6 separate regions of the Homo sapiens genome follow, and regions 1, 2, 3, 4 and 6 are each reported to be linked to region 5. The links are microRNA targets in miRTarBase. Many come from high-throughput screens and were not tested one by one. Region 5 holds a microRNA gene; each other region holds the end of a gene's coding sequence. Distances are from middle to middle.

Evidence for each region. The annotated mature microRNA hsa-miR-4310 reads GCAGCAUUCAUGUCCC and lies in region 5 at 1,717-1,732, opposite strand. An mRNA with a match to its seed (bases 2 to 7 or 8) in the 3' UTR can be bound and repressed. Matches are read on the target gene's strand: a 7mer-m8 pairs with bases 2 to 8, a 7mer-A1 pairs with bases 2 to 7 and ends in A, and an 8mer does both.
Region 1: the mRNA of PPP1R10 is a reported target of hsa-miR-4310. Seed matches in the 3' UTR shown: 7mer-A1 at 864-870.
Region 2: the mRNA of ZNF202 is a reported target of hsa-miR-4310. Seed matches in the 3' UTR shown: 7mer-A1 at 4,013-4,019.
Region 3: the mRNA of KCTD2 is a reported target of hsa-miR-4310. Seed matches in the 3' UTR shown: 7mer-A1 at 3,577-3,583 and 7mer-m8 at 3,700-3,706.
Region 4: miRTarBase lists RAMAC as a target of hsa-miR-4310. Seed matches in the 3' UTR shown: 7mer-m8 at 3,789-3,795.
Region 6: the mRNA of SOWAHC is a reported target of hsa-miR-4310. Seed matches in the 3' UTR shown: 7mer-m8 at 1,557-1,563.

The regions. Positions count from the first base shown.
Region 1 is chr6:30,596,892-30,601,952 of GRCh38, reverse strand. It overlaps PPP1R10 (protein phosphatase 1 regulatory subunit 10), which reads left to right. Exons shown (of 20, transcript NM_002714.4): 19 at 1-17; 20 at 295-1,540. The coding sequence ends at 404. Among named protein-coding and RNA genes, the nearest start is that of MIR877, 15 kb to the right of the region's middle.
Region 2 is chr11:123,721,409-123,726,481 of GRCh38, forward strand. It overlaps ZNF202 (zinc finger protein 202), which reads right to left. Exons shown (of 9, transcript NM_003455.4): 9 at 2,506-5,073. The coding sequence ends at 4,589. Among named protein-coding and RNA genes, the nearest start is that of ZNF202, 18 kb to the right of the region's middle.
Region 3 is chr17:75,062,136-75,067,203 of GRCh38, forward strand. KCTD2 (potassium channel tetramerization domain containing 2) reads left to right here. Exons shown (of 6, transcript NM_015353.3): 5 at 1-110; 6 at 883-3,751. The coding sequence ends at 912. Among named protein-coding and RNA genes, the nearest start is that of KCTD2, 17 kb to the left of the region's middle.
Region 4 is chr15:82,989,554-82,994,626 of GRCh38, reverse strand. RAMAC (RNA guanine-7 methyltransferase activating subunit) reads right to left here. Exons shown (of 4, transcript NM_031452.4): 4 at 3,570-4,746. The coding sequence ends at 4,560. It also overlaps a transcript of C15orf40 not described here. Among named protein-coding and RNA genes, the nearest start is that of RAMAC, 5.9 kb to the right of the region's middle.
Region 5 is chr15:41,864,789-41,869,861 of GRCh38, forward strand. It overlaps MIR4310 (microRNA 4310), which reads right to left and starts at 1,763; the gene lies at 1,707-1,763. It overlaps SPTBN5 (spectrin beta, non-erythrocytic 5), which reads right to left. Exons shown (of 68, transcript NM_016642.4): 32 at 5,053-5,073; 33 at 3,610-3,813; 34 at 3,281-3,430; 35 at 2,750-2,854; 36 at 2,171-2,338; 37 at 1,556-1,705; 38 at 1,250-1,441; 39 at 1,020-1,115. RefSeq lists a silencer at 4,966-5,073.
Region 6 is chr2:109,615,770-109,620,842 of GRCh38, forward strand. It overlaps SOWAHC (sosondowah ankyrin repeat domain family member C), which reads left to right. Exons shown (of 1, transcript NM_023016.4): 1 at 1-3,221. The coding sequence ends at 298. It also overlaps a transcript of RANBP2 not described here. Among named protein-coding and RNA genes, the nearest start is that of SOWAHC, 3.9 kb to the left of the region's middle.

The sequences.
Region 1 (5,061 bases), not on the chromosome of region 5:
CCACAGCCATGGAGGAGGTGAGGATGCTCCCTGTCCCCCATATGCCTTTTGGTTGTCCCATACAAGCTTTTGGGGAGTGGGTGAGAGTCACTACTGTTGGTAGCTAGGCAGAACGTGAGGTACCCGTCTCTTTGATGTCCTAGTATGCATAGCAGTTCCTACTCTATGCCCTTCCCCCAAATCCCCAAGATTGTCTCTGAAAGACAGTTCTCAGGATGTCATGGACAAGGGGTGGTGAGGGTGGCATTGCCCTCAGCTATTTCCTGTCTAACTGTTTTGCCATCGTTCCCACAGACATGTCAAACCGCCCTGTCTGCCGACATTTCATGATGAAGGGCAACTGCCGCTATGAGAACAACTGTGCCTTCTACCACCCGGGTGTCAATGGGCCCCCCCTGCCCTAGGGACCATTTGCCTGCCCTGTTCACACAACCCCTGTGGACTGCAGCCTCGCTCTTTCCACCCTGTTATGGCTTCTGTGAGGCCCATTTTCCCTTTTCCCCAGCTGATGAGGAGCCGGCCCCCTCAGTTCCCACTTGCTTGGGTTCCTGGGGGTTTTCTGATCACTGGTGCGCATTGATGTACATATTTTCCTCCAGTCTGGGGAGGAGAGAGACTGGAAACGTTCCTGGACTGCTGAAGAGGAGACCCAGTTGGCTTCACTTTTTGAGAAGATTCGCCCTGTACCCCAAACCCCTTTCCAGTATTACCCTTAATGCTTGAGAACCTAAAGCTGGTTATCCTGGCGAACACCCCTACCCTTCTATTGCGGGTCCCCACATGCACACAGAACTCTGACACAGGATCAGCTGCACTTAAGAAATCATCCCAGCTAAGTTCATTATTCCTCATGGGGTGGGGAGATGCTGAAAGGGGTATTGTATATCCCACTGCACTGAGAGGGCTCAATCAGCTGGATTTGAGTTCTGGAACACACATCATCCCCACCCCTCCCCCAGCGTGGGCTCACCATTCTTAGTCCTTTCTCAAGTGGGACCTTCAACTTTCTGTGAACACCCAGTCTGCGTCCTGGGTCTGCTAGGTTCGATGATGGCGAACTCGTATCTGCATCCGGTGCAAGTTTTAGCTGGCAGAGGTGAGACCGGTGGTGCTGGTCTGCCTTTGCCAACTATAGCCAGTCTGGAGACTTGATAAAATACTTCAGTGAGACCAGCTTCTCATCAACTTGGGCCCGGCGTGCTGGGCCTGAAAGTCACACTACATGCACTGCCTTTGGGAGTCAGCTCACTCCCTGCTCCCACCTGGAACCTTGCCAGCGTGAAGGAGGCTTCCAGGTACTTCACCCTGTCAACCACCTCTGAATCCCCACCAGGCGCCTTCCTGGGTGGATTCAACAAGATGATTTTGCCCTTTCCCAGTTCTCTCCTTCACTTTGGCATCAGTTGTTTTCTATGAAAACAGTGGATTGGTTGGGTTTTGTGCAGGGTCTTGGGTTAGAGCCAAAATGGATTTGAGGATGAGTATTTTTTTTTTTGGTTTTGTATATTTTGTACATTAATAATAAACAGTGGAAAGAGAAGCAGCTTATTTAACCCCTAGTGTGTTTGGACTTTTTTGAGACGGAGTCTCGCTCCGTTGCCTGGGCTAGAATGCAGTGGTGCAGTCTTGGCTTACTGCAATCTCTGCCTCCTGGGTTCAAGGGATTCTTCTGCCTCAGTCTTCTGAGTAGCTGGGATTCCAGGCACCTGCCACCATGCCTGGCTAATTTTTTTGTATTTTTAGTAGAGACTTGGTTTCACCATGTTGGCCAGGCTGGTCTGGAACTCCTGACCTCGTGATCTGCCCGCCACGGCCTCCCAAAGCGCTGGGATTACAGGCGTGAGCCACCGCGCCCGGCCTGGACTGTTTTTCATTTTTTTTTTTTTAAAAGCCATTACCACCTGTGTTAGATACATTAGTACAAATCTGTGGAATCTGATTTTTACTCCTCTGGAGCTAATGCTTGATCTAACAGTTGCTATTAAGTACTGGTGAAAAAATGCTTCAAAAAGTACATAAAATACTCTAGGATACAGAGTAGATCTCGGCCACAGGGCTCTTTCCTGGTTTTCATCTTTCTGAGTCTTCTTTAACACGCCTCGTGTGTGTTCCTAGAACAGTCCTATCCTGGCTATCGTGCCCTCTAGGATGTGTTCTTGGTCATCTTATCCACATTCTACAGATAAGGGAGGAAATCCTGAGGATGCTGGAGTCAGATAAAGGCCATTGTCCCAGCTCTACCTCTCTACAGCCTGGGTGACCTTAGCCAGGTTAGTGTTGGGTATCAGTGGCTCATGTCTGTAATCCCAGCACTTTTGGGAGGCCGAGGTGGGAAGACTACTTGAGCCCAGGAGTTTGAGACCAGCCTGAGCAACATAGGGAGACCAGGTCTGTACAAAAAATACAAAAAATATTAGGCATGGTGGCACATGCCTTTAGTTCCAGCTACCTGGGAGGCTGAGGCGAGAGGATCACTTGAGCCTGGGAGTTCAAACTCACAGCTATGATTGTACCACTGCAATCCAGCCGGAGCAACAGAGCAAGACCCTGTCTCAAAAAAAAAAAAAAAAAAAAAAAGCCAGGCATATTGGGTCATGCCTGTAATCCCATCACTTTGGGAAGGCGAGGTGGGTGGATCACCTGAGGTCAGGAGTTGGAGACCAGCCTGGCCAACATGACAAAACCCCGTCTCTACTAAAAATACAAACATTAGCTGGGTGCCTATAACCCAGCTACTCCGGAGGCTGAGGCGGGAGAATCCCTTAAACCCAGGAGGTGCAGGTTGCAGTGGGCCGAGATCATGCCACTGCACTCCAGCCTGAGTGACAGGGCAAAATTCCGTCACAAAAAAACAAAGGGTAAGTATAGACTGCTCTTCCCAAAGTGGCTCTGGCCAGGCATGGTGGCTCAAGCCAGTAATCCGAGCACTTTGGGACGCCAACATGGGAGGATCACTTGAACCCAGGAGTTCAAAACTACCCTAAGCAACATAGGGAAGCTCCATTTCCCCATTTCCGCGCCTGGCCTCCACTCTTCTTAAACCAGAAATTAAAGCTGGGCATGTTGGCTCACGCCTGTAATCCCAGCACTTTGGGAGGCCCACATGGGACGATCACTTGAACCCAGGAGTTCAAAACTACCCTAAGCAACATAGGGAAACTCCATTTCCCCATTTCCGCGCCTGGCCTCCACTCTTAAACCAGAAATTAAAGCTGGGCGTGGTGGCTCACGCCTGTAATCCCAGCACCTTGGGAGGCCGAAGCAGTTGGATCACCTGAGGTCAGAAGTTCGAGACCAGCCTGGCCAACATGAAGAAACCCCATCTCTACTAAAAATACAAAAATTAGCTGGGTGTGGTTACTGGCGCCTGTTATCCCAGCTACTCGGAAGGCAGGAGAATCGCTTGAACCCAGGAGGCAGAGGTTGCAGACTGCACCACTGCACTCCAGCCTGGGCAACAAGAGTGAAACTCCATCTGAAAAAAAAAAGAAAGGATACATCACTCTGGGGGGAGTGTGTGTGGCAGATATGGGGCAGTTGAAGATATTAACATGTTTTAACATGTGGGTTGAGAATGGCGGTTTTCAAGTCTGTTAGCATTCATCAGGATCATCTGAAGAGCTTATTAGAAAACAAATCTGGGGCCGGGTGCAGTGGCTCATACCTGTAAACCCAGCACTTTGGGAGGCCAAGGCGGGTAGATCAGGAGGTCAGGAGTTCGAGACCAGCCTGACCAACATGGAGAACCCCCGTCTCCACTAAAAATACAAAAATTAGCCGGGCGTGGTGGCGCATGCCTGTAATCCCAGCTACTCGGGAGGCCGAGGCAGGAGAATTGCTTGAACCCGGGAGGTGGAGGTCGTGGTGAGCCGAGATCGCACCATTGCACTCCAGTCTGGGTAACAAGAGCGAAACTTGGTCTCAAAAAAAAAAAAAAAAAAAAGAAAGAAAAAAAAAAACAAATTTGGGTTGGATGCAGTGGCTTATGCCTGTAATCCCAGCACTTTGAGAGGCCAAGGCGGATGGATCACCTGAGGTGAGGAGTTTGTGACCAGCCTGGCCAACATGGTGAAATCCCATCTCTACTAAAAATACAAAAATTAGTCAGGCATGGTGGCTCGCGCCTGTAATCCCAGCTACTTGGGAGACTAAAGCAGGAGAATCACTTGAACCCGGGAAGTGGAGGTTGCAGTGAGCAGAGATCACACCACTGCACTTCAGCTTGGGTGACAGAGCCAGACTCCATCTCCATCTCAAAAAACAAAAACAAAACAAAAAGAAAAAACAGACAGATTGGGGGTAGGGTCCAGCAAAATTCTGATTTAGTAGGTCAGGATGGATCCCGAGATATGCATTTCTAACAAATTCCCAGTTGCTGAGGCTGCTACACTGCCCTGGAATACGTGTCTCAGCTGTATTTCCAGCATTGGCCACATGAGGGGGCAACAATGTTTTATCAGTATCTGAAAGGCCTCACTGCATGTAGGCCCAAAGTGGGTAGTTTTACCTTCCCCTTGCCCAGGCTTGGTGTGTGTGGGCGGAGGTGTTCAGGTCAGTCTGTTGTTGCTGTGTGCACTGGGAGAAGACCTGAGAAGACATAATCTAAGGACCAGGCTAGGGCGTGAAATACCAAAGAAGTATACAGCTCAAGTGAAAAAACCCAAACATGTCACAACCTAGTGGTCACAACTTTGTGTCTCTTTCTGCTTCCATTTACTGCCTGCTTCTCACCTTTCTTCTATCTCCTGCAACAAGCCACAAGAACCTTAAAAGAGAGCTTAAAGTTTTTACTGTATTTTAAGAATAAGCTCGGCCGAGCGCGGTGGCTCACACCTGTAATCCCAACACTCTGGGAGGCCGAGGCGGGCAAATCCCAAGGTCAGGAGATGGAGACCATCCTAGCCAACATGGTGAAACCCCGTCTCTATTAAAAATACAAAAATTGCCAGGCGCGGTGGCTCACGCCTGTAATCCCAGCACTTTGGGAGGCCGAAGCGGGCAGATCATGAGGTCAGGAGATGGAGACCATCCTGGCTAACAAGGTGAAACCCCTTCTCTACT
Region 2 (5,073 bases), not on the chromosome of region 5:
CTTCTATTCTCTATTTTAGTAATTTATTAAAACTGTAGTTGTATTTTAGTGGAGGGCCTTTCAGAATATCATGCTAGGGGCACTGAAGGAGGCAAGGATCTTCTCCCTTTATTTGCTGACCCAGTCTTCTGCTTTTTGCTGGTTTCTTGACTCAGGGTTTACTCCTCATTGTTTGGATGGATTATTCAACTGCCCCACAGCTCTTTTGCCGTGGAACTGCTTCTCTGTAGACCTGTTGCCAAGATTCCGCAAATGAACCCAAGCACCAAGCAATTGCTGTAGGCCTCTTCCTGAAATCTTCTCGTTAGTAGTTCCTTGGACTTGTCTAGGAGAGATGTACAACTAAAAAAGAAACCACAAACAGAAGAGCAGAGAAGTCGTCTTACGGGAAACCCTGAGAATCTGCAGTTTTGATTATATTCCTGTGAAATGGCCTTTTTGCAGCGTTGTTATATTCTGCAGAGAACGCTACTAAGATTTATTCTCTACTTAAATGGAGAAGGTTTGGCTATTTTCCTGCATGGCGTTTTAGATGGTTGAATCTTCTTGCTTCTGGAAGTCTTTACAGCTTCTGGAAGTCTTTACATAACCCTACAATGCTCTCAACCTCCTCTGAAGAGTCCCTATCTTTATGAATTGCCAAATAAACTAGTTTGTGCTGACTGATTCCTTTTTTAGAATTTGAATTGCATTCCTCCTTCTACCTGAAACCTCGGTGTACACACGTGCATGCGTGCACTCACACACACTAAAGAGAATAGAAATTGCACATTAAGAGGTATCTTTGTGCTGGTCTGACAATCACTTTGTTCCTTTTTGTTATTAAAGATAAAAAAGGTGGTGTCTAAAGAAAGCTGGGCTCCTCCTTGCTTGATCCTCAGGACTTCCGCAAGGATGAATTAAGTTATTCCACTTATTCCAAGGAGATGTGCTTACATTTGAAACATTGTATCAGTTACTTTGCCACAATAAAGGTTAGTAATCACGTGGGTTGGCCATCCACTTTGTGGCTCTTTCAGTCTTTCCCTCTCCCATAAACTAGATTAGTGGGTTAGTCAGCCAACATCACTAGAAATATAAGGAGATGGAAATAATTGTAGGTATATTTCTCTCAGCTATTGTGGCTGGACTATTTAGGTCAGCTGAGGGAAGACGCTAGAGGTAAAACAAACTATTTTTAAAAATACTGGTGTGGGGCCAGGTGCGGTGGCTCACGCTTGCAATCCCAGCACTTTGGGAGGCCAAGGCAGGCGGATCACAAGGTCAGGAGATCGAGACCATCCTGGCTAACATGGTGAAACCCCGTCTCTACCAAAATTACAGAAAATCAGCCGGGCGTGGTGGTGGGTGCCTGTAGTCCCAGCTTCCTGGGGAGGCTGAGGCAGGAGAATGGCGTGAACCCGGGAGGCGGAGCTTGCAGTGAGCCGAGATCACGCCACTGCACTCCAGCCTGGGCGACAGAGCGAGACTCCATCTCAAAACAAACAAACAAACAAATACTGGTGTGGAAGGGTACCAAATTATTAACCTGCTCAACATGTCATCAGTTACTATTTCTCAGTTCAGCTTTCATTCTAGAAAACTACTATGGAGCCGTTAACTCTCATTTGGATTACTGTCCTTTCAGCCAGTCTGGTGAATCAAAATTTTTTATTTATTAAATATCCCATTTTTCGCCTGTGGCAGGGTGGTGGTCCAGAGGCCTTGACTGAAGGGGACTGGAACAACTTGTCTGTGCCATCTCTGGGCTTTTCTCCTCTACTACTCTACTGCTCAGTGCAAACAATGTATCTTCTATTAGATCCATTACTTCAGTTGTGCTTTGAAGGGGGCAACAGGTTTCTTAGTGGGTTTTGATTTTAGTACCTTGATGTTAATCTGATTTATGAAATTCTCCATGGAGTTCATCTGAGTTTACCGGATTCTGCTCCGGAATATGAGGCCTAAGTCCCAGATAATAAAAATGTATTTTGGCTTGATCTCTTGGGCATTTATTTCTCCTCGGACTTTGTGGTGAAGAGGTTAAATATTCCTTGGTTATTCCTAAATTATCTGGTCAAACATCCTTATATTATCATTTTTAATGTGTCATACCTCTTTAGCACATTTCCAACCACCTGCCACTTCTGTTAATTAAGTAGCGTATTAACTTCCTCCAAATAATATCTTTAAAATCCCACCGTTTTCTCCCTCAGAAACTTAGTATGGTATTCAAGGATGCTAGAATTCTACTGCTCACAAGATACTAGAGGGGACCCCTCCGAATACACACCCTGTGCTCCAACCTCCCTGCTCACGCTCAGCTGCACTACTTCTTTCCTGCCGCTGCACACTGTGGTTGTGTTTGTTCAGATTTGGGAGACAACATGTCCCTCCCAGAACCTCAGAAAATTCAGTAATTTACAAAAGGGACCAGAGATTTAGTGTCAGCATATGAAACTCTGCAGGGAGATCAGTAATTAAGGACTATTTGATGTTCCAACAAACCGGCCCAGCCTCACAAGCTTTCCCTCATGTAGAACTCTGACAGATTTTCATTTATTGGAATAATGCAAATAAGAAAATTAAAAAGTCAATTTGTTGTCACTGCCAGTATTTTACCAACCTTTATAAATGGTTAAGTCTGAGCTAGGAGAAACTATCTTTTGTGGCAGACATTTCACCCAGGACAAGCTGTGCTTAGGCTTAGATACTTGGTTTAGAAATGCCTGCTTATTAGGACAGTATCTTCTGCAAACTCCAGGCTTGGATCTTATCTCAGAGTGCATATGTTTCACCGGACTCTGCTAATCATCCCAACCCTTCCTTTCCTCAAGGAAAAATACTCTGTACTCCCAGATCTATTTGAGTATGAACCACCCTCAGAAGTATCAGGACACTGAAGCCCTGGAAAAGGAATGGGTAAGATGGGAAGTCCCAGAAACCAGGGAACTTGGCTGCAAGTGTTACCTTTATTTATTTCATATATGTATATTTCCAGAAGGACAACGGTTGACTGGTATTAAGACCAAACCAGTCCATCAGAATATCATCGACCAAAATGAGAATTTCCCTGTTGGGCCATTAGGGTTGGAGTCTTATTAACCCTCCCCTATTCCTCGGGCCCATAATGCATTATGAGATAGAGGAGAAGAAACCAGGCACAGAAGACTCTCCCTGTCATGCTTTAACCCCATACCCTGTGCTCCACTTATGGAGGACGTCTCCCCAGTTCTTGCCACTCCCACAATCAGAGAAGGTGAGGTTCATAATTATTCAGCCTCATCTCCAAGGAACCTTTAACTGGCAACAGAGATTGTTGGGCCATCATGAGATGCTACTTTCTAGCTCTATGAACATAAAATCACGTAAGAAAAAGCAAACAACACAAATACATGAAAGCCATTTACTCCTGGTGAATTCCTCAGGGTCCCAGGTTCAACACTTTCCGTGATGTCAGAGTACTCAGTCAGGGATGATGGGGACAGGGTGTCAGAACAGTCTTGATGGTCTTGCCAGCAACAGCTTTTTCTTATTTTCCATAATTTGGTCTTAGTCGTTCTCCAGTTGTCTTCATGTAAATAAAGTGGCCCATGGCAATCATGATTCTGTAATTGTTATAGTGCCTTTGTAAGTTGACAGTTTCCAAATCCCCTTACTCATACGACCCCTGTGAAGGGGGGTGTGAAGGGGTTGGTGGGCTTGTGCATATGAGGGAATGTGAACGATTTCATTATGACCGAATTATGCTTTACTCAATAAGCACTCAAACACTACCATCTCACTTGTAGTAGAAGTGCTAGGGATGCAACCAAGAGACTGGTTGAATAACGGGAAGGTTAAATGCATGAGTATTTTAATAGAAAAAAATATTAAAAACAAAACCAAAACTCGTATGGAAAGAGGCTTCTGACTAGGCCCTCCTTTCTAGCAGTGTTTGGCACCTGATAACAATTTGACGCTGGGGGAGGGAGCAGCTTGACAAGGTCCACATGAAGCAGCCTTGAGATTTTTCGCCCACTTCCATTTCTCCTCAGCATCAAAGGAAAGTGCATGGTAAGAAGTGAATCAGACAGCGAGGGATCTATGCAGTTATCCTGTGAATGTGTGGCAAAGCCATCAGGACGCAAACCTCCTGTCTTGAGTCCAGAGCTGTGTGCTTTAAGATTTGACCCCAGTAAAGACAGAATCCTTCAGGCTCGTCCCTTCCCAAACCTAAGGGGCTGTCCTTGGCCACTTTCAACTTGAAGCTGTTGAGCAGTCTTTAGGATATGTAACAGCCTATTTTTTGGACGATATAGGAACCACGACCTCTTAAGTCTCTTAGTTCTCCTACTTTATACCCATGAGGTAGAGGCAGGTGCACTCCAGTGAAGGAGAAGCCTCAATTCAGGTTGTACTTTGGATGAAACATCCCCTCAAGGCGTAGAGGAAGGCTGAGAGGTTCTGCCCAGGCTCGTGTTTAGTTGCAGGAAGAGGTAATGTCAGATCTGAGCAGGTCAGGGAGACTCCCTCGAAAAGGTCTTCCCAGGCTGACAAGAGGGCTTTTCCTCTTCCTCACCTCCCTTAGGTGAGGGCTGAAAGCAGATCTCCTCACATGGGGACCTAGCTAGGAGGTCTTTTCTGAGTGGGTCCTCTGATGCCTAATTAAGTGATATCCTCTGCTGAAGCTTTTTCCACAGGTAGGGCACGTGAATGGTTTCTCCCCAGTGTGTGTTCTCTGATGCCTGACGAGGTGGTCCCTGCGACTGAAGCTCTTCCCACATTCGTTGCATCGGCAGGGCCTCACTGAGGCGTGTCCTCTCAAGTGCTTGGCGAACGCTGCGCTGTGGGTGAAGCAGCGCCCGCACTCGCTGCAGAGGTAGAGTTCCTCAGCAGCGTGCGTCTTCCGGTGCGCCAGGTACCGCCTGTGTTCACTGAAGTCCTCACCACACTCTCCACACAAGTAGGGTTTGCCTCCCAGGTGGATTCTTTGGTGTGTTGTTAACACAGATTTCTGGCTGAAGCTTTTGCCACAAATAGTACAAAAGAAGGGTTTTTCTCCAGTATGTGTCCTCTGATGTCTGACAAGGTCTGAAGTCCAGCGGAAGTGCT
Region 3 (5,068 bases), not on the chromosome of region 5:
CTTCCTATAACTACGGCAATGAGGATCAGGCAGAATTCCTCTGTGTTGTCTCCAGAGAACTAAATAATTCTACCAATGGCATCGTCATAGAGCCGAGCGAAAAGGCGAAGGTAAGGAGCCCCTTCCCTGGGCAGTTGCCTCTGGCTTGCTTGTTCGCACCCCCTCCGTGGGCTTTTCCTGAACTCTTGCTCCTCACTTCTTCCCTGGCCTTCTAGAGCCAGCGTTGCATTTTCCCCTCGTTTTGTTATTTTTGACTGTTGTAATTTAATTGGGATTTACGGAGCACTGACAGGTGTTTTTAGTTAGAAAATATGAACCTAAAAAGGGTAGACTTTCTCCATCCTCTGCCAAATCAATGAAAAAGAAAAGCTGGTTGCCACTAATTACTACAGGGTAGGATTTCTGAACTCAGACTTGGAAGGTATTTTGATTTATTCTTTAAAACTGTGCTTTTTTCACTGCCTCAGGAGAAAAGGGTGTTTTCTTACCTTGGTGACCTTTACCTCCCTTAAGTTCCTGGAAAACTGTTTCTTTTCCCTCCACTGTGCACCCCCCTCACCCCCAACACACACACACACACACACACACACACACACACACACACACACAGCTTCTAAATCGTGGATACCAGGTAAGCTGGAACCACTTCCTTTCAGTTGGCAAAGCTTTGGTCCAACAGCATATAAGCTTTAGACCCAGCTGTGCCCAGCAAGAGAGTGTTTCGCACCAGAAGCACTGCGGGTGAGGCTGCGGCTGCACCCCTGCTTGCTTCCTGGGATGACAGGACCATCATGCCACTCATCGGGTCCAGTGGAAAGCATCCCCCGACATCTCTGTCTTTCCCTCAGCAGCCTCAGCCTCTCCCCCATCTCCAACTTTCAGATTCTTCAGGAGAGAGGATCGCGGATGTAAACTAAGACCCCGAAAACTCCAGACCTTCAGGAGAGCAGTCAGCAGAGCCCCTCTGTGAAGTGAAACCTCACTCCTGTCCAGTGACCGAGCCACTGCAAAGCACAGCTGATCCTGGCCCCCTGTGAAGAAGTGTTCTGGTCAAAACTAAAGGAACTCCCTCCCCACCTGCAGGACTCCGAAGACAGTGCGACTTCTGGCTGCAGAATACCTTTTCAGAAACCTGCTTTCATTTGCTTAGCCAGTATTAGAACAGATCTTTACAACAGCAGCTGGGCTGGGTTCCCAGTCGGAGCCTTTCGGGGATCTGGGGGATGAGGGCGGAAGGCCTAGCTCCTTGGAAATGGCCTGTACTTTAAGGACGCTGGAGCCAAGAGGATTGTTCCCGTGCCGTGCCATGGTTTCACCCTATGTGTGCCACAATGGACGTTAGCAGCTGCTTCGGAACACCGTCCCTCCTATGCACCCTCCAAGACGTGCAGCAGATGCAAAGGGTTCTAGCTGCAGTTTGTCGAATTGAGGTTTTAGGTAAAGCATAGAGTTGCCAGAGTACCCCGCATTCCCATGAATAGAGCCTCCAAGGAAAGGGAGGATGGGGTGTCCTTTGTTGTGGTTGGAGGTTGGTGATCATTGCTCTGGATTTGGGGCTCCCGGCTGCCACCACATGCAGCTTTGCCTCACCTTTCTCCAGCAGCCGGGACCCTCTGGAGAGCTTGTTTTCCCTCCAAGAAGAGGTTTGAGACAGGCGGCATCCTGCACTGAGTCAGACAAGTGGGAGCTGTAGGAACTGCACCTGCAGCCTCTTCTTACTCCCCATTGACCCTGTCTTCCTTCCCTGGCTTTTTCAACTGGACCAAAGATGAAGGCACTTATGGACCCTTTGATGGCTTGGAGTGGGGAAGGCTGTTTCTTTGAAAGTTGCCAAATGTGTTATGTTGTGTCTCAGAGAGAGTTATTTCTGTGACTCTCTTGGAAATGCCTTGACTGAATGTGCAATATTTGTGTCTCTTGGTTTCTAACCTTGGCGGACCTGCTCCCCTCTGTACTGTCCCCAGTGGTATGTATGTATGTGCTAGGCAGTCTGGGGACCCCCTGTGTCTCTGACCACCCCCCTGACCCCCGCCATTACTTTCTTTTCTGGAGTGCCATGCTGGCGAGGATCCGGATGCGGCAGCACCCTCTTTCGGGCTGCATCCACAGAGTTTGTGTCCACACTTTCTCTCCGAGCATGTGGGTCTCGCTGAGCAGTCATGGAATGCGGTAGAGCCAGGGGACCCTGTCTGCCCCGAATAACTTTCAGTAGTATGGCAGATGGCACAGAGAAAGGGAAGGGGCTCTGGGGACTTCTCCTTCTATGAAAGCCTCCTCGAGCCAGGTGCTCCTGGGCACCTTCAGAAGTGATGTCCTGTGTGCTCCACAGCTCACCTGCTTGCCAAGGTACGTCTGGGTAGTAGTTTCTGGAAATGACTGCAGACTGTGCCAAATGTCTTTTGAGCTTCTGACCTGACCATGCCCAGATGGCATAACTTTTCCCTAGGACCCTCAGTCTCCTTGTTTCTCTGTATCTGTAGCATAGCATAGAACCCGGTATACAGGGGTTTCTGCTGACACATCAACGTCTACACACCTATGCGCCACATTTTACAGCTGTAAAGTGTTAGATGAACTGCCGTCCTCAGTAAAAGCAGCCACCCCTTCAAGAGTCACAGGCATCCATCCAGTCGTATCTTTCAGAGAAAAAAAAAGTTAGATGTAGCCAAGGAAAGTAGTGATCACGGGAAGGACTGCTCTGAGCCGGGTAGGATGGAGGACTTTGGAAGAGGCGCTCCTTGGCCAGGTCCAATGAGTAACATCAGACTGACAGAGGAAAAGCAGCTTGGTTTGCGGCCTTGTGCCCAGTCTCGTTGAGGCGCTTGTCCCTGTCTGCTTTCCTGGGGCATGCCTGATCAGCGTGGGCTGGAGCTCCTAGACCAACCCCAGCTTTCTCACCAGGTTCAGCAAGGAGGCCTGGGGGTCAGACACCAATGTTGAGCACCTCCTGAGGGCGCCGTTTCCTTCATTCCTCTTAGATTCCATAGTTGCCGCCATGAAAAGACTGCTCTTGAGCCCCAAGGCACAGGCACGTGCTCTGGGAAATAGACAGGAGTGGTATTTCCGCCCTCTCGGAGGGCTGGTGTTCACCAAGTTTCCCTCCTCGCTGCAACCCAATGACACCTGTATTGTTCCAGCGCTCCAGGACTCTGGGTTCTTAAGATTTCTGGGAGCGTTGTTCACCCACCCCCTTTAGGAACCAGGCTGGTGTTCTTGCTTGAAAGCGTTGTGCCCTCTGAGTGTCTGGCTGATCACATCAGAGAGGTCTGCGTGGCAGTTTGGGGCTGTCACGTGACCAGTGACCCACACTCTCTGCTGCCCAGTACTGCCAAGTGGGGAGGGTCCTGCCTTTTTCTCTGCCCCAGGTCTGGGACGCAGGTGATGCCAGCCAGGCCCAGGAGTGCCCAGCATCCCCCAACTGATGACACAGTAGCACTGATTCTGTCTTTTCCTCAGAATCTGGCCTTTTTCCATGGCAATGAGGTGGGGCCCAGCCTCCTCTAAAGTGACTTTGTTTCTGCACAGTTGTAACTGCTCTTGGGGATGTCAGTGAGGCTGGGAGCAGGGAGCCACGGGATGCTGAGAGAGGAGGCCCGAGAGGACACCCCACCCTCCAGCGTGGCCTTTGATCCAGACTTAGGGACGAGGCTGTCACTGGTGGGCACCCTCTGTTCCTGTTTGTGTGTTTGAATAGTCTGAAATGCTGTGACTTTTTTTGTGTGAATAAAGATATGAAACTTCTGAATCTCAAGAACTGTGGTGTGTTTTCCATTACTGCAGTCTCCTGGTTCCCACTGTCACTTCCTGTCGATGGTTCTCACATGGGTTTCAGGAGATGACTTAACTACCTTTCCTACCAGGACAGCTGACTAAGTCCTTTTCTCCTGCTACTGAAACCACCAAAGGGGGTGTTGGGCCTTCTCCCTCCTCCCTTTCATTTTACTGAATCTGAAAAGACCCAGAGAATGCAGAGAAACAGAAGGTGGGACGGATGGGCTGCCCACCAGAGAGCTGGAAAGAGACAAGGGGAGGAGTGTGAGATTTTTTTTTTTTTTTTTTTTCCCCGAGATGGAGTCTCGCTCTGTCACCCAGGCTAGAGTGTAGTGGTGCAATCTCGGCTCACTGCAACCTCTGCCTCCCATGTTCAAGCAATTCTCCCTCGGCTTCCTGAGTAGCTGGGATTACAGGCGCCTGCCTGCGCGCCTGGCTAATTTTTGTATTTTTAGTAGAGACAGTATTTTGCTGTGTTGGCCAGGCTGGTCTCGAACTCCGACCTCAGGTGATCCTCCCGCCTCAGCCCCCCAAAGTGCTGGGGTTACAGGCATGAGCCACCATCCCCGGCCGTGAGATGGTTTTTAAGGGACAAGTCTTTCTGGAAGAGAGTGAGTGACTAGGTACAAGGAAGAGGATGAGTGAGGAACGTTTGGTGACAACCAACAAACAAGTATTGATCACTTCAGCATCAGGCGGGGCATGGGAAACTCAGAAGGTGTTAGTCCCTTCCAGACAGCACTTTCAGGTAGGGAGACAAAATGGACTCATACAGCTTAGTGAACAGGATGCGTGGGTGCATCCGTCAGGGTCCAATTGAGACCACAGCAGTTGTTAACTGGTAGTGGAGAAAGGAAAGGGCAGGAGTGGACACTGAGGCATCACAATGTAGGGATTGCAGGGTGCAGTCCTCACTCCTGGGACCTGAGAACAGTGGGAAGACATTGGGATTATTAAAGTGGAGATTTGGCCGGGCGCGGTGGCTCACACCTGTAATCTCAGCTCTTTGGGAGGCCAAGGCAGGCGGATCACCTGAGGTCAGGAGTTCGAAACCAGCCTGACTAACGTGGAGAAACCCCATCTCTACTAAAAAATACAAAATTAGCCGGACCAGCTACTCGGGAGGCTGAGGCAGGAGAATCACTTGAACCTGAGAGGTGGAGGTTGTGGTGAGCCGAGAGCACGCCATTGCACTCCAGCCTGGGCAACAAGAGCAAAACTCCGCCTCAAAAAAATAAAAGGGCTGGGCGCAGTGGCTCACGCCTGTAATCCCAGCACTTTGGGACGCCGAGGCGAG
Region 4 (5,073 bases), 41 Mb from region 5:
CACAACTAACATTTCCAGCTAACTAAAGTCCAATAATAATAGAGGCCACCTTAAACTGGGAGTATTTATTTCCTATATTGCCTAATTTAAAAAAAATCCTTTTCACTGTAGATTATTGTGCTAATTAGAAGAAGTCAACAGTCTACGGCATAGTTTTCCATACACAGCCAGATCTGTGTTTGGATTGAATGAATCAAATGAAATAGGAAGTCTAGGGAAATTTTTAAGGTATAAAAAATTGTATTTCGGTTTGGCTTGAACTTGTTTAAAATAAATAAAATTTTTAAAAAACATTATATTTAGGAAACAAGTAGAGTTCTTTTATGAGAGTTCAAAATTAGTGCTGTCAATAACCTGATTCAGGGTAAATGATTATTTCCTTCAATTTTAACATTCTAAACTTAAAGCTGACATTTTATTACCCTTAATTCTATTATAAAGTCCTACATTTTTCTTTAGGTGAATAAAATACAAGGGATAATTACCTATTTGTCTGTTGAGCATTATAAGGAAAGTGGCTTTGGAAACAAAAACCATGCTAGAAATCTCCCCAGATGTCTTTTTCCTATGTGGTTTCAAGAACCCCAAAACTATTCTCAGAGCAGTGACTCAAGTTTATTACATTCTGTATAACCCCAAGTCCACCTAGCACTCAAAAACAAAACACAAACAAAAAACTCTAAAAGTCCCCAGCATCCTGTTCTCAAAAGGACATTAATCTGATGTGTTCAGTAATTAACATTTGACATTCTAAATTCACTACTAATTTCCAAATGGCAAATGTTAGTAATTTTATTTTAATTTATGTATTTATTTATTTTTGAGATGGAGTCTTGCCCTGTCACTTAGGCTGGAGTGCAGTGGCACAATCTCGGCTCACTGTAACCTCCACCTCCCAGGTTCAAGCGATTCTCCAGCCTCAGCCTCCCTAGTAGCTGGGACTGCACCACCATGCTTGGCTAATTTTTGTATTTTTCATAGAGACGGGGTTTTTGCCATGTTGGCTAGGCTGGTCTCGAACTCCTGACCTCAGATGGTCCACCTCCTTGGCCACCCAAAGTGCTGAGATTACTAGCATGAGCCACTGAGCCTGGCCAAATGCTACTAATTTTAGCTCAACTTTTATACAAACCATCTTCCACATTTGAAGTGTTTATTTTCTGAATGAGATAACTTGCTTTCCTTTGCTAATTCACATATGAATTAACATAAGGAAACAATCACAAATCCTTAATTCTCAACGTCTTCTGCCCTACCTCATCTTCTGCCCGTTACTCTACATCCTTTATGTCAACACTACGCTTTACAATTTACCAAATACTTCCCTCCCGTTGATTCAACAAATGTTTATGCAGCACCTATTGTGTCCTACTAGGGATTTAATGGTCACAACTCTATATTCTCAAGTTCTTCCTTTGATTATTTATTTTTATAATTCTGTGAGGGTGGCAGGGTGGGTATTGTCCCCATTTTTACAGCTGAGCCAATAAGCTCAGTGTTTACATGATTTTCTCACGGTCACATATGTTTTAAGCACAGAACTGGAAGCTAGGATTCCTTATACCTAATGCCATATGTTATTACAACAGACTACTTGAAATTAATTCTATTTGACACTATTTTATTTGCTCTCACTCTTAAATTATCTTTAAGCTTTTTTTCATGTTATTTTCTGTCTTATGAAGCAGAAACTGTACCTTTTATTTCTTCCTGGTTTTAAGCAGATCAGGGGCAGGGGTACAGTCTGATAGTAACTGCTGTTAAAAAACAAAAACCATAACAACATAGATTATTCATGCAGCATGCAGAATTTACTCATGTTAAAAGGTTTCCTCCCATTTTTTCAAGCACGGCTGATACTCAGGACACAAGCAGCCTAGCTGTGTTGGGTGTTAAAACATTTAAATACTGTTGGAAAACCACCTCTCTTCTGAGCTTCCTGAGAAGTACTCCTCCAGCGCTGGCCTTGGACCCATACATCTCCCTTTGTGTCAACAGCTGGCACAGCACAGAATCCTGACCTAAAGCTACAGTCAGCTATACTGTCCCAACTACTGGTCAGTGCCTGTGCTTTCTCAGGAGATGATTTTATAAATCTTTTTTTTTTTCTTTGAGAGAGTTTCGCTCTTGTTGCCCAGGCTGGAGTGCAATGGCATGGTCTCAGGTCACTGCCACCTCCACCTCCCAGGTTCAAGTGATTCTCTTAACTCAGTCTCCCGAGTAACTGGGATTACAGGCATCCGCCACCATGCCTGGCTAATTTTCGTATTTTTAATAGAGACAGGATTTCACCATATTGGCCAGGCTGGTCTCGAACTCCTCACCTGGGGTGATCTGCCCATCTCAGCCCCCCAAAGTGCTGCGATTACAACTGTGAGCCACCGTGCCCAGCCTATAAATCATTACTTTTAAGAGACAGCATCTATCTAGCCCAAACTGGAGTACAGTGCCATGATCCTAGCTCACTGTAGTCTTGAACTCTTCCCGGACTCAAGGGAGCCTCCTGCCTCAGCCTCCTGAGTAGCTAGGACTACAGGCGTGCACCACCACACCCAGCTAATTTTAAAATTTTCTGTAGAGACAGGATCTTGCTACATTGCCCAGGCTGGCCTCGAACTCCTGGCTTCAAGTGATCTTCCCGCCTCGGCCTCCCAGAGTGCTGGGATAACAGGTGTGAGCCACCATACCCAACCAGGTGATATTTTTGATAACACTTCTGCTTTCAGAGAAGATTCTGGGGTGTAGTCAGGACATTACTATCTAGACTAAATATCTGTAGTATCAAATCCTATCTTTATATAACAGCACTGGCTTCTTGCCTACTGATGTAATTAGGGAGGTTACAGGGAAAACCCTTACTATTAAAATTGTATTTGCATCTTAGTGTGACTGCCCGACTTATTAGGTCATTTCCAATAAAACAGTTACCCGAGAGGATGGCTCTTCAGGAAGGGAGAATAAAAGGGAGAGGTAGATGGAGAGCATGAAGTACCTGGAGAAGTCAACCTCGAGGGCCTAGAGTGGGGTGCTAAGAGAGAAGGCATTAAAAATAGGTTTACGAAGATGCCCCCGTTTTTTTTATGAGATGAAGTCTTGCTCTGTTGCCCAGGCTGGAGTGCAGTGGCACGATCTTGGCTCACTGCAACTTCCGCCTCTGGGCTTCAAACAATTGTCCTGCCTCAGCCTCCCGAGTAGCTGGGATTACAGGCATGTGCCACCACACCCGGCTAATTTTTGTATTTTTAGTAGAGACGGGGTCTCATCATGTTGGTCAGGCTGGTCTCGAACTCCTGACCCCAAGTGATCCGCCCACAGCCTCCCAAAGTGCTGGGACTACAGGCATGAGCCACCATGCCTGGCTGGAAGACGCCTTTTTAAATATATATATTTTTTTGTCACTCTAATAAAGTCAGGAAGGTGCCTGTTAATTCCTTTGACCTATGTTGAAATTTGCACTCTTAATGTTACTGTTAAACCAAATAAGCCCTTTTCAACAGATATGAAGGACAGCATAAAAAAACCCAAAAATCTCATTTCACCATATTAATAAATGGGCTAACTGCCAGAACTTGGGAGTGAAGATGCTTAAATATTTTAAAATTTTTATTTGAATGAAATCATTGTAATAATCATTAAAGTGATTTGAAATAGAATGATCTCTGTGAAAGGAAGTTTATAGCATCACTATTTATAGGAGAGAAAGCAGCAGAGGTATGCATCTGGAAGTGAATATAACATTGTAAAATCAGCCCACATTAAATACCAAAAAAGTAAGAACCATCAAAATGCAGCATTATTTACAGGATTAAAAAGTGTGAACAGTACAGAGTTAAACTTTCTTATGTGTGAATTTTGACCTGCTATGTTGTTAGCAAAAAGCTTTAGTGTTTGTATAAAATGATGTGTACCCTTATCCCAACCACCACCAGATCAAGACACAAACTGACAATGATTCCTTCCTTATTTTACAGCTTTATTACTGATTTCCCTCTAAAAAGAGACTCAAGTGTGGAGCTGACTCATCTATAGATTAAGGAATCACAAAGTACCATAGTCACTTAACAAATGCAAAAAAAAAAAAAAGCAATTGTTTTACCTTTCAACTGCTGATGTTATGTACAATCTATCACAAAAAGCATAGCTGTGCATTCATGAGCTGATTATATCAACCTCTAGAATTTTAGAAACGAGCACATCTAAGCATATGGATACTCTCTTACCTTACAAAGTAAAAGCATTTTCTATTTTAAAATTTTTATTTCTGTGTAAAACAAAGAATTCCTAGAGGTCAAATAATATACCAAACTTAAAGCACTATTAAGTCATGAAACAAAGAAGATTCTGAGGTAGAAGTCAAGCAATATAATCCACAGTTTCAGGTATTCCCAGCAACCATCGCATTTCGCAAGTAAGATCTATTTTTTTTAAAGTCTCAACTTCCAAAAAATCAATAATCCATTCTGTAAAATCAGATGTAAAACTATGACCAACAGAAGACACCCAAACTTTTCTCATGGTAACAGAGTAAATGCTTTTACTAAAAGCTGCCAACATTTCTATCAGTAGTAACCGTAAGGAGGCCGCTGGTTGTAACCATAATGTCCATATTGCTGGGGATAGTAAGGTTCTTGTCTGTGTTGCGGGTAGTTGTTACCCCAGGATCGTCCATGCCACTGATTGGATCGATTGTCACTTGGCCACCCCCATCTGTTGTCCCTGCCTCTGAACTGTCTGTTGTCTTGCAACCTACAACAATAAAACAAAAAAGATCTTTAAACTTCCCTTGTTAAAAAAAACATATGACAAACCCATAGCAGTGCTTCTGGTTTCTCATTCTAATACACAATAAATAAGACTAAAAAACATTTTTCACAATAGAATGTTATAGTGCCAGTTATTCAAAACTTTCCTAAGATTGAAATCATTCTTCCAGTATTATACTAGGTACACTTTACAGAGACATAGGCAGACTATATAACCAATAGAATAGTTCCAAATTAAAGTGAAATCTATTCAATTGTACAAAAATGGTATGGTAATTTATTCCTTTGACTATTTTGAATTATTAAGTAA
Region 5 (5,073 bases):
GGGGGTCCACCGCAGGGTGTGATTGCAGATCTCCTGCCTCTGGCTTCTGTAGAGCTTGTTTAAATTTCCAAAGCACTTTCCTATGAAGTGCCTCATTTGCAAGGTAGGCAGGGAAGGACATTCCCCTCCTTTTATAGATGCCGGAGCAGAGCTCAGAGGCTAACCTGGCTCCTTTGCGGCAGAGCCAGGATTCAAGCCCAGCTCCTTTGGAGTCTAGCTCTCTTCCTACTGCAGCATCTGGCACAGCGTCTGTGAAATTCCACCATTAACAAGGGATGTCTTAGGTTTAAGCACTGCCGCCTCTTAAAAAGTAATACATACATGTACCGGGGGACAAGGTTAGCACATTTGGTCTTTAACACCTGATTGTCAATACATTTGCCATTTTTTTCCCCTGTATACCACATAAGAGAAATAGATGTTTGGTGTGTGTATGTGTGAGGGGGCGGGTGTGGGGTGAGAAGACGCTGAGACGCTGAAATAGTCACACTGAAGGTGGGCGCTGATTATCTGCCACATCCAGGCATATGTCCTATCTTTTTAAGATTTTTTGAAATAATTATAGATGCCCAGGAAATTGCCAAAGTCCTGCAGAGAGGTCCCTGTGCCCTTCCCCAGCTTCCCTTACAGCAGCATCCTATATAATGATAACATTAAAACCACAAAGCTGACGTTGGTGTAATACTACCAACTAGACCAGACCTCATTCAGATTTTATTAGTTTTTGCAAGTATGCATCTGTGCGGGGCAGTGGGGGATAGGTCTATGCAGTTTTATCACAGCTAGAGATTCACGTACCTGCCACCACACACGTGCTCTCTTACCTCTGAGGTGGGTGCTACCCCCATTCTAAAGAGGAAGGAGTGAAGGCGGGTGAGAGGAGGGAGCCTGCCCGAGGGCATAGGAGGAGCAGGCATGGCGCCCACGCCCTGCTCTACAGCCCACACTCTTTCCCTGCTCTCAGTTGGATTTTCAGTGCGGGATGCATGGCCAACCTCTACCCAGCAAGGCCCTCTTACCCCGGCCGAGTTTCCTCGGAACTCGCGGAGCCGCCGTCGGAGCTGCAGGCAGTGCTCCAGGTCCTGGCCCAGGTCACCAACATTCATCTTCACCTCCTGTGAAGGCCGAGGGTGGGGAGGGAGCGCTGTGAGCACCAGCCCAGGCTCCTGGCACCTGCTGCTGGGGATCCCTCCTGTCAAGGGAGGGCTCCTCCCCCCATCTCTCAGCCCCCACCCAGCTGGGGCTACACCTTCTCCTGGATCCAGGCCTCTGCAAGGTCCACTCTCTGCAGGAACTCCAGGAAGTTCCGCCTGTCCTCCAGCTCCTGGCCCCTGAGGGCCATTGCCTGCCTCAGGTCCTCCCAGTGCTTCCGCAGGCCCTGCAGCCGCTGGGAGACCTCTCCGGCTCGAGGGTGACTCTGTGCCAGGAGAGCCTCTCCCTTCTGGAGGGAGAGAGGGGACACAGGACATCTTGCCTGCTGCACTTCCTCCTAAGACTGACATTGCCCCTGGGCCACACTTTGGGGCAGGCATGGGGCTGAGGGCCCGGTTGTTACCTTGGCAACAGAGGTCATGACCTCCTCATGGGCCTGGACTTCAGCCTCAAAGGCCTGGTGTTTCAGCAGGGGCTTCAGCTTATCTCTCAGGTCCCCAGGAGGGACCGGCTCCTTCAGCTGCTGGGCCCACGCCTGGATCCAGTCCTCAGCCTGGTGGGGGTGGGACATGAATGCTGCAATGTTCTGCAGCCTCAGGCCCCAGACGCCACAGGCCTAGCCCCCAGCCATTCCCAGGAGGCTGGCCTCAGGGGTGGGGCGGGCAGCACCTGGTAAATGAGCCCTGAAGGTTCCAGCTCCGGAAGGTTGCTGCAGGAGGCAGCCGGGCAGGGCCTTGGGTGGGCTCTCGTTTTGGAGGTGTGGCCCCTACTCCTGGGGCCCTGGGCTGCTCTGCTCCCTTCCCCACCTCTCTTGCCCTGGCGCTGCTAGAGCTCGGGACACTGGTGAGGTCTCCACACAAAGGGGCTTAGATCCCATGTTCTGGGCTCCAGCACAGCCTCTGGGAAAGCCATCCACCCCCGAACCTGTTTCCGCCTCACAGTGTTGCGGTGTGAAGGCGGCTGAAAACTGTCGAGTGTGGTTCCAGTGGAAGGCCCTGGGCTGGGGGTGCCCTCTGACCTGGGTTGCGGCCTGGGTGAAGCTGGCCATCAGCAGGGAGGCATGCAGGGCGTGTCCCCGGCTCTCCGCCAGCTCCTTCACTCTCATCCGGCGCTGCAGCAGGATGGGAAGCCGGTCCCGCACCCGGGGGCGCCGGAGCGTCTTCAGCCGCTCACGCAGGGCTGCCTCCTGTGGGGCAGGGGCACAGCTGCTGCTCTCCCACCCTGGGCTGGGGCAGGGCCTGGCCTGCAGGGCTCACAGTCCTTTCTTTGAGGGCCCCGGAGCCCTTTCCTCAGCCCCACATGGCTGAGGGGTATCTGATCCTCCCAGCCACAAGCCAGACCAGTCTGCTCCCCAAGGACCACACGGTGTGGACAGAGCCAAATGCCCCGTGTGGGTCTCTGCAGTGTGGCCCATCTCCCCCTGGGCCCTCTTCTTGAGCCACACATACAACTTGCTCAGTCAACCCCAACCAGGACCCCAGCCTTGCAGGCTCATCAGCACTGCCTCCAGGAACACACCAAGCGCCCCGTGACCCCCTTCAGGACTCTCTCCCAACCACCACACTCTGACCACGCCCAGGCCTCCTGACTCCATTACCTTCTTGTCCTGGGCAGTCAGAACCTTCAGGAAGACCTCGTGCTTGCGAATCAACTGCTCTACCTCTTCCACCGAGCTCCCCAAGGCACTGGTTTTCAGGGAGACCTGGATCCACAGAAAAGTCAGAGGCCACCAAGCCTTCCAGCCAGCCAGCCCCTCCAGCTGCAGTCTGTGCCCATGGGCACTCTGGGTATGGCAGGGCCTTAGGAGTGCCCACTGAGCTTGGCATGGAGCTGTGAGGAGTGGGAGTCCAGGTTGGGAGGCTGCGATACCTCAACCTCTGCACCATGTGGGGAGCATGACCAGCCTCTGGCCAACTTCCTCGGGGCTCAGTCTGGGATAGGGGCTGGGGATGTCAGTGGACGCTCAGGGGCCTCAGCACTTCACCATGGCCACCTGGAAGGACTTGTGCACAGCTGCCTCATATTAGAGAAAAAGCCAGAGAGGCAGGAGGAAAGGGACTGAGCAGAGAGGAGAATAGAAAGGAGGAGCAGGAGGCTGAGCGGAGTGTGAGGGCGGGAGGGGACCTGCCTCCTGGGCCGCGAGGATCTCCTCCAGGCGGCCGCACTCTCTGAGGAAGAGCTGCTCCTGCTGCTCGGCCTGCAGCCTCTCTTGCTTCCGTGCCCAGGTCTGATACACCTGGTCCCGCTGGTCCTGCAGGGCTCGAAGCTCTTCCTGGACCTGGGGATGGACACATGAGGAGCCTCAGCTGGGGAGGGTGGTGTGGGTGAGGTGAGGACTGGATCCTGAGGGAAGCTCCTGAGGAGAGGCCAGCATGGCACAGTAGGACGGGGCACCAGGTGGCCAGGCACAGGCTTGGTCAGCTAGGGTATGTGGGGGCACCAGGGGAGGGGGCCCACCTCCTTGGTGGGTGTCCCTGCAGCAAGAAGTGCCTGCTGCCCCAGCTGGGTGGCCTGCTGCCACAGCTTCTCCCGGGCCTCCAGCTCCGCCCGGAGCCACTGGTGGGCACTGAGCTTCAGCGGGCCACTGCTAGGCTCTTGCGAACTCTCCTCCACCTGCAGGTCCTGGCGCACGCGGGCTGCCCAGGAGGCATAGTCACGCACCTGATCCCGGGGACACGGAGGGAGAGCCGGGTGAGGGCTGGGCTGGGCAGCAGGAAACCAGGTGCTGAGGCAACTGCAGCCCACCTGAGTCCACTCACACAGCCCGAGCCGACCTGGGTCAGGGCCTCGGGTGAGGCACATGTGGCCCTTTGTCACTTGGTTTCTCCGTTCTCATCCAACCCGATCCTCCCAGAACCACGAACCCCCTACATGAGCCAGACCCTTACCACGACACATCTCTGCCCTTTGTTCCTCCTGCCTTCCCATCTCTACAGAGCTCACCTGGATGAGGCCATGAGAGGACTGGCGGCTAGCAAGATCAGCCCCATCAAGACTGCTTGATGGGGAAAGAAAGTTCACCTGCTCTTCAAAGGCCCCTTGGCCGCATTTGCCTGGCAAAGCCTTCCCTGGTATTTGACATTGCACTGCTCTCCTTGTTCTCTGAATTACTAATTTAACCCTTACAGTCTTCTGCTGATTTGTGTACAACTATACAAGATTGGTGCTGGAGGGACTTCAGGCCCTTGTCCAAATGTCTCATTGCATGGAGGAAGGAAGGGTAAATGGCAGAAAGAGTCTTGTAAACTCTAAGTGCATGACAAACCCAGGGTTAAGTGCCTTGCTCAAGCTCACACTGCTAGCAAATCAGCAGAGTTAGGTCCCTAAACTCAAGCCTTTTTGCAGTGTCAGTTTGGGCCTCCTGGTCTGCCAGGTCCCAGGACAGTGGGATGCCGGGGACACCCCGTGGCCAGGACCTACTGTCCCAGTCTGATTCTCTGGGTTTCGGGCTCATCTCCCCAGGAAGCAGGGCTCCATGAGGGCAGCAGTTCCACTTTCCATAGCTTCTATATTGCCCTCCTCTCTCCACCCGTGGCTTCAGCAGGGAGCTGAAGACAGACATTAAATAGATACTGACTGATCCAGAGGTCACTGTCTAACATCTGGGTCTCCAGTTATGAGCTTTCCTGGGCAGTTCTTACTCCCAGCCCTGTCTGGGACCCTGCATGACTGCCCTGCCACTCACCTTGCTGGCACTGACCCAGACCCTAAGGTGTCACTGCTATGCCCATGTGCTCAGCCCCTGACCAGCCAGACTGACATCCCGTGTGCTCGTGCTCTCCCACCCAAGTCCATGCTTGTTCTCCCTCCGGAGCTGGAGGGCCTCATGCGTGCATGCCCATGCATGGTGCAGCACACACACATGCACACACACACCACCCAAAGGGCAGGAGCCCTCACCGCCGTGCGGAAGCGGGCCAG
Region 6 (5,073 bases), not on the chromosome of region 5:
ACTCTCACACGCCCTAGAAGATGGAGGGGACCATCACCACCATCACCACTCGGCTGAGGGGTGGGTCGGAGGCAAAGCCAAGGATCCAGGGCGCAAAGCCTCGGGCAGCTCTAGTGGACGTATAAAACCCAGACTCAACAAAATCCGATTCAGAACCCAGATCGTCCACACCACACCCTCTTTCAGGGACCCAGAGCAGCCGCTGGAGGGCAGGGGGGAGGAGGGAGTGGGGGAGGAACGACCTGTTAAAGGCCACTCGCCCTTCACATTGAGACCAAAGTCCAATGTATTTGGGTAAAAATTGCTTCTTTTAGAAAATGCAAAGGTTTATTTGTCTTAATAAATTGAATACTAGGTGTTGTAAGGAAGTGAGACCAGAAGGACAAGCTAAATTATGCATTCTTACTTGAGGGATCGGAATGGATGGGGCGGAGTTCTCTTCAGGCTAGCCTTCTGGGAAAAGTGGATGTCTTTTTCAGAGATTCATCATACCTTGACCTGTACCTCTTCTCTGCCCTCCACTTCCCTGCCCTGGAGTCCGTTTCTGGAGACTAGAAATGTATCTAAATTGGGGGAACAGAATGAATGAATTAATGAATGAGAGTTCCTTTGCTTTAACCATTCCTGGATGCCTGCAAAGTAAGGAATAATGCAGTTTTTATGTATCTGATTTTATAAGGGGTTACTCTTTCAAGAGTAACAAAAAAATGCAAACTGTAATGAAACTACATTGTATTTCTAAGTGTGAAAACGACAGGCTGCCCCGTTTTTACTAATTGCATTTGCATTTTAAGGTACTACTGAAGGTCAGATCAAAGTTGAAATGCAAAAATACTAATTAGAGAATAATGTGAATAAAATGGGAATCTTCTTGGTATTTTATGTGTATTGTAAGTAGCAGTTAAATTATTTTTTTAAAAGCAATTTCAGTTTTAATCACTGAACAAAAGAAACAGGCAACATTCACTTCTGTAGTATGGTTTCCACCTATCTCTAACACCACTATTAAGGTACACCAGTGTTAAGGTACATTAATAACTACACAAAATTTTATTTAAAGAGAACACTTAGCAGCCTATGATAGTTTTCAATAAAATGTTGCCTCTCTTTCGGATTCTCACTAACTTTTGTTACTATTCTAAAAGTTTGAATTTGCTGGGGTGTTTATTCTGAGGATTATTTAACCATTGTTCTATTTGGCATAACCCTATTTAATGGTGCTTAGAGCTGAATTACCTACAGAAACTGTTTCTGGTTTAAATAATTAGCACAAATTGGCCTAAGTATTCATGAGCCCATGTTTCTGTGAAGTAATTATTAAACCAACTTAATGATTCTTATGTAAGGTACACTTTTTATTTTAATACATTGGTAGTCTCTATGACTTGTAGCAATGTTTTACAAATGTTTAAAATGCTAAACTTAATTTTCCAAGCTTTTCTTGACAATTAGATACCTATCCTGTAGTTACTGAAAATCTGGGTAGTAAATCTACCCAATTAAAATGGCACTTTATAAAAGGGAATAGAGAAGAGATGGGACTATTTCTATATTTAAATGCTGCTGGCTATTCCTTTGTATATAAATGAAAAATACCATTCATTAAAATTAAGTACTCGTTTAAGTATGGTTCTTAATTACATTTCATTCATTTATATTAGAGTAAATGGCTTCATAACTACTTTAAAATTTAACCCACAAGCATATTAAATCTGTTTGTTATAAGATTGGAAACAATTTTTGAGAGGGACTAATTTAAACAAGTCCTCCTTTAGTCTTTTGGGTCGCGTAGTTGCTGAAACCTAAGTACCTGCAGCCTACAGGATAAGGAAGTTCACAGCCTGCGGGGTGAATGAACCCATGTGTGAACTGCACAGAGCAATTCATAGAAAATGCATAGAAATTTGTAACACTTTGGTCACATCTGTCTCTAGATGGTCATTGAATTTGTTTAAAGATGGATGAAAGGCCAGGCATGGTGGCTCATGCCTGTAATCCCAGCACTTTGGGAGGCCGAGGCAGGTGGATCACTTGAGGCCAGGAGTTTGAAACCAGCCTGGCCAACATGGTGAAAACCTGTCTCTACTAAAAATACAAAAATTAGCCGAGCGTGGTGGTGCGTGCCTGTAGTCCCAGCTACTTAGGAGGCTGAGGCATGAGAATCACTTAAACCTGAGAGGTGGAGGTTGCAGTTGAGCCAAGATCACGACACTGCACTCCAGCCTGGGCAACGGAGACTCTGTCTCAAAAAAAAAAAAAAAAAAGATGAATGAAAATATGAAATATATAAACTAGTATCCATTTATTTGCATTTATTGTGGGATTTCAGATATGAACGGTGTAAATTTGAGAAGCACTTATGCATACATGTGGGTGAAAAACCAATCTAATTTTGTATAAATAAAAACAGGCTCCTGGAAGGTGAAAAGTAGTCATTTGTTCTAAATCTATACATATTACTTGTATCTAGTGCAGAATAAGCTATAACATCCCATTGAGGAATCTTAAATTTCATAGACATGTAAAGCTGAAGTAACTCTAAAGAGCAGATGCTTCAGAACCATCAGAAGGTTCTGGTCAACAGTCAGTATTATCTCTTAAATGTATATGTTGGTCACTAATTGCACAAAATCTATAATTTGCCAGGGCTTTAGAGATTGAGTCAATATGTCATTTACCATGGTTTTCCCACTGAAGGCTTTAACTTTTCTGATAAAATAATATTTTAAATTTTCAAAAACCCATTCCTGAGGAGAACTACTTCTAGCATTCCTTTTCATGATGTGCTTTTGTGCAGTAAGTAGCATTTTCGGCTACTTAACTTTACATTCCTCTTATTTTTCAGTTTCCAGTCAAGATTATAAAAAGCAAATGATTGATATAATTTGATATTCATAGAGTTGTGCCTACCTTTAATGGAAAAATACATGTCAGATACTTAGATGTTTATTGATATGAGACTATGTGGTTAAAAAACCCAAGTATGTCCATGTGTTTCTTATAAGGTACACTTGAAACTAGTGAGTGTTTGTCACATTTCACTTTCATGGTATATAAAATGCAGTTTGCATATATAACTTGAATATCTGGTACTAGTTTTTTCACGCCTGCAATCTTGGAGTCTAGGTTGCCTTGTCTCTCCTATTTTTAAATAAGTGAAATTTGGGAGATTGTAAAATCTGTAAAGTTTGTTTTGTGAAAATAAAATGTTCACAGTAGAATTTTTCTCTGAATTGTCTAAGTTTCTGTCGTCCTTTAGACTTTTTACATATACTGTGTTTTACAGTTCACAAAATGCTTTTTGAAGTTTCAGTTTATTTGACCCTTTTCCTATCCCTTAAGATTATGGGCCATATATTGTTGACTTACAGATAAGAAAATAGAGGTTAATGGTTGTTCAGGGTCACACAGTAAAAAGCTGTTAGTAAGATTATAAGAGTCAGGGCTTTCCCACAACGTTATCTTTTCTGCACATTGAATTGCCACATTTTTAGCAAAACTGCTGTAGTTTGGCACCAGTGATGGAGGAATCAACTTGGAGAGAAGGTAATACCTCCACCACTACCTAAAAAAAAGCTGTATGGGTTTTGCACACACCATCTGCCATAAACCTGCCCTACCCAGGGCTGACTTCAAGACAGGTGTAGGAATACCGTTTTTCATTTTTCAGCCTCTGTGAAGCATTGAGAGTTAATTACCTCATCAAGGCTTCCTGTGATCTGTATTTTTAGCAAAATTCAACTCTGTTGAATGGCAAAGGGATGTGGTACTCCTTTGGTGTAATCGCCCACTATTGCTCTATCCGGGAGATCCCACTGTGATGGCTGCTGGGGTTATTCTTGTTTTATGATAACCCATAAAATATTTTTCAGGATCACTGAAAGACTAGATAAGTAGTTTGTTTTTCTAGAATAACTTCTTTCCTTAGAAGTACATGTCTTAAAAGGATTTATTAACCAGTTCACTTAAAGATATTTTTGAAATTTTCCTAGTAAAAATTATTTTTATTTTGCTAAGTAAATAGCATTATTTGGAGTTTCTTACATGATTAATTCCAGGATTAAATACTTGGAATTTGCTGTAAACCAGTATTCCTTCAATGATCACCCAAGTCTTCATAAATCACTGAATATTAGAGGGTTGGAAGATGACTCTACAGAAACTTGTTTCTCAAGATACAGAAGTCATGTGGTTCACATAACTACCTGCTTTTTCCATGAAGAACACTATACTTTTTTTCTCAATCTTCTCTTTAAATGTCAGTTTCATCTCAGTAAGTAGCTTTCCTATTCTGTTAACTAATAGCCTATTTTTCCACATCGATGCATTGGTAAGGAATGTGTGACAAATGTTCTACCCTTGCACAGTGCCTGGCATGTTGAAGGTACTCAGTAAGGGTCTTTTAATGGAAAACATTAAATATTTTATAATGTTACATAATATGGATAATTCAATTACATGCATTCATGCTATGTGAATAGTTTTTTTATATAACATGGCTCTTAAATACCAGCCTATCAGTTCATCTGCAGCTCAGCCAAAAGAACAGCAAGTTATTCCAATCCTGAAGATAAAATCAGCTTTATTAGAACTGTACTTCGTGAGCGATTTAAGAGATTTTCAAGAGTAAATTTGATTATAAGAAAATTTTGCTGGGCGTGGTGGCTCACGCATGTAATCCCAGCACTTTGGGAGGCCGAGGCAGGAGCATCGCCTGAGGTCAGGAGTTCAAGACCAGCCTGGCCAACATGGTGAAACCCAGTCTCTACAAAAAATACACAAATTAGCTGAGCATGGTGGTGCATGCCTGTAATCCCAGCTACTTGGGAGGCTAAGGCAGGAGAATCACTTGAACCCGGGAGGCGGAGGTTGCAGTGAGCTGAGATTGTGCCACTGCACTCCAGCCTGGGCATCACAGCGACTCTGTCTCAAAAAAAAAATAGAAAGAAAGAAAGTTTCCTTACAAGCTGACTCAAGTCCAAGACCTGTAGGAGAAATTATTCTAATTGGCCTTAAATAGTCTAAGTACTGTCAGGTATACAAATGACTACTTATTCTGTGAAATCCCAAAGA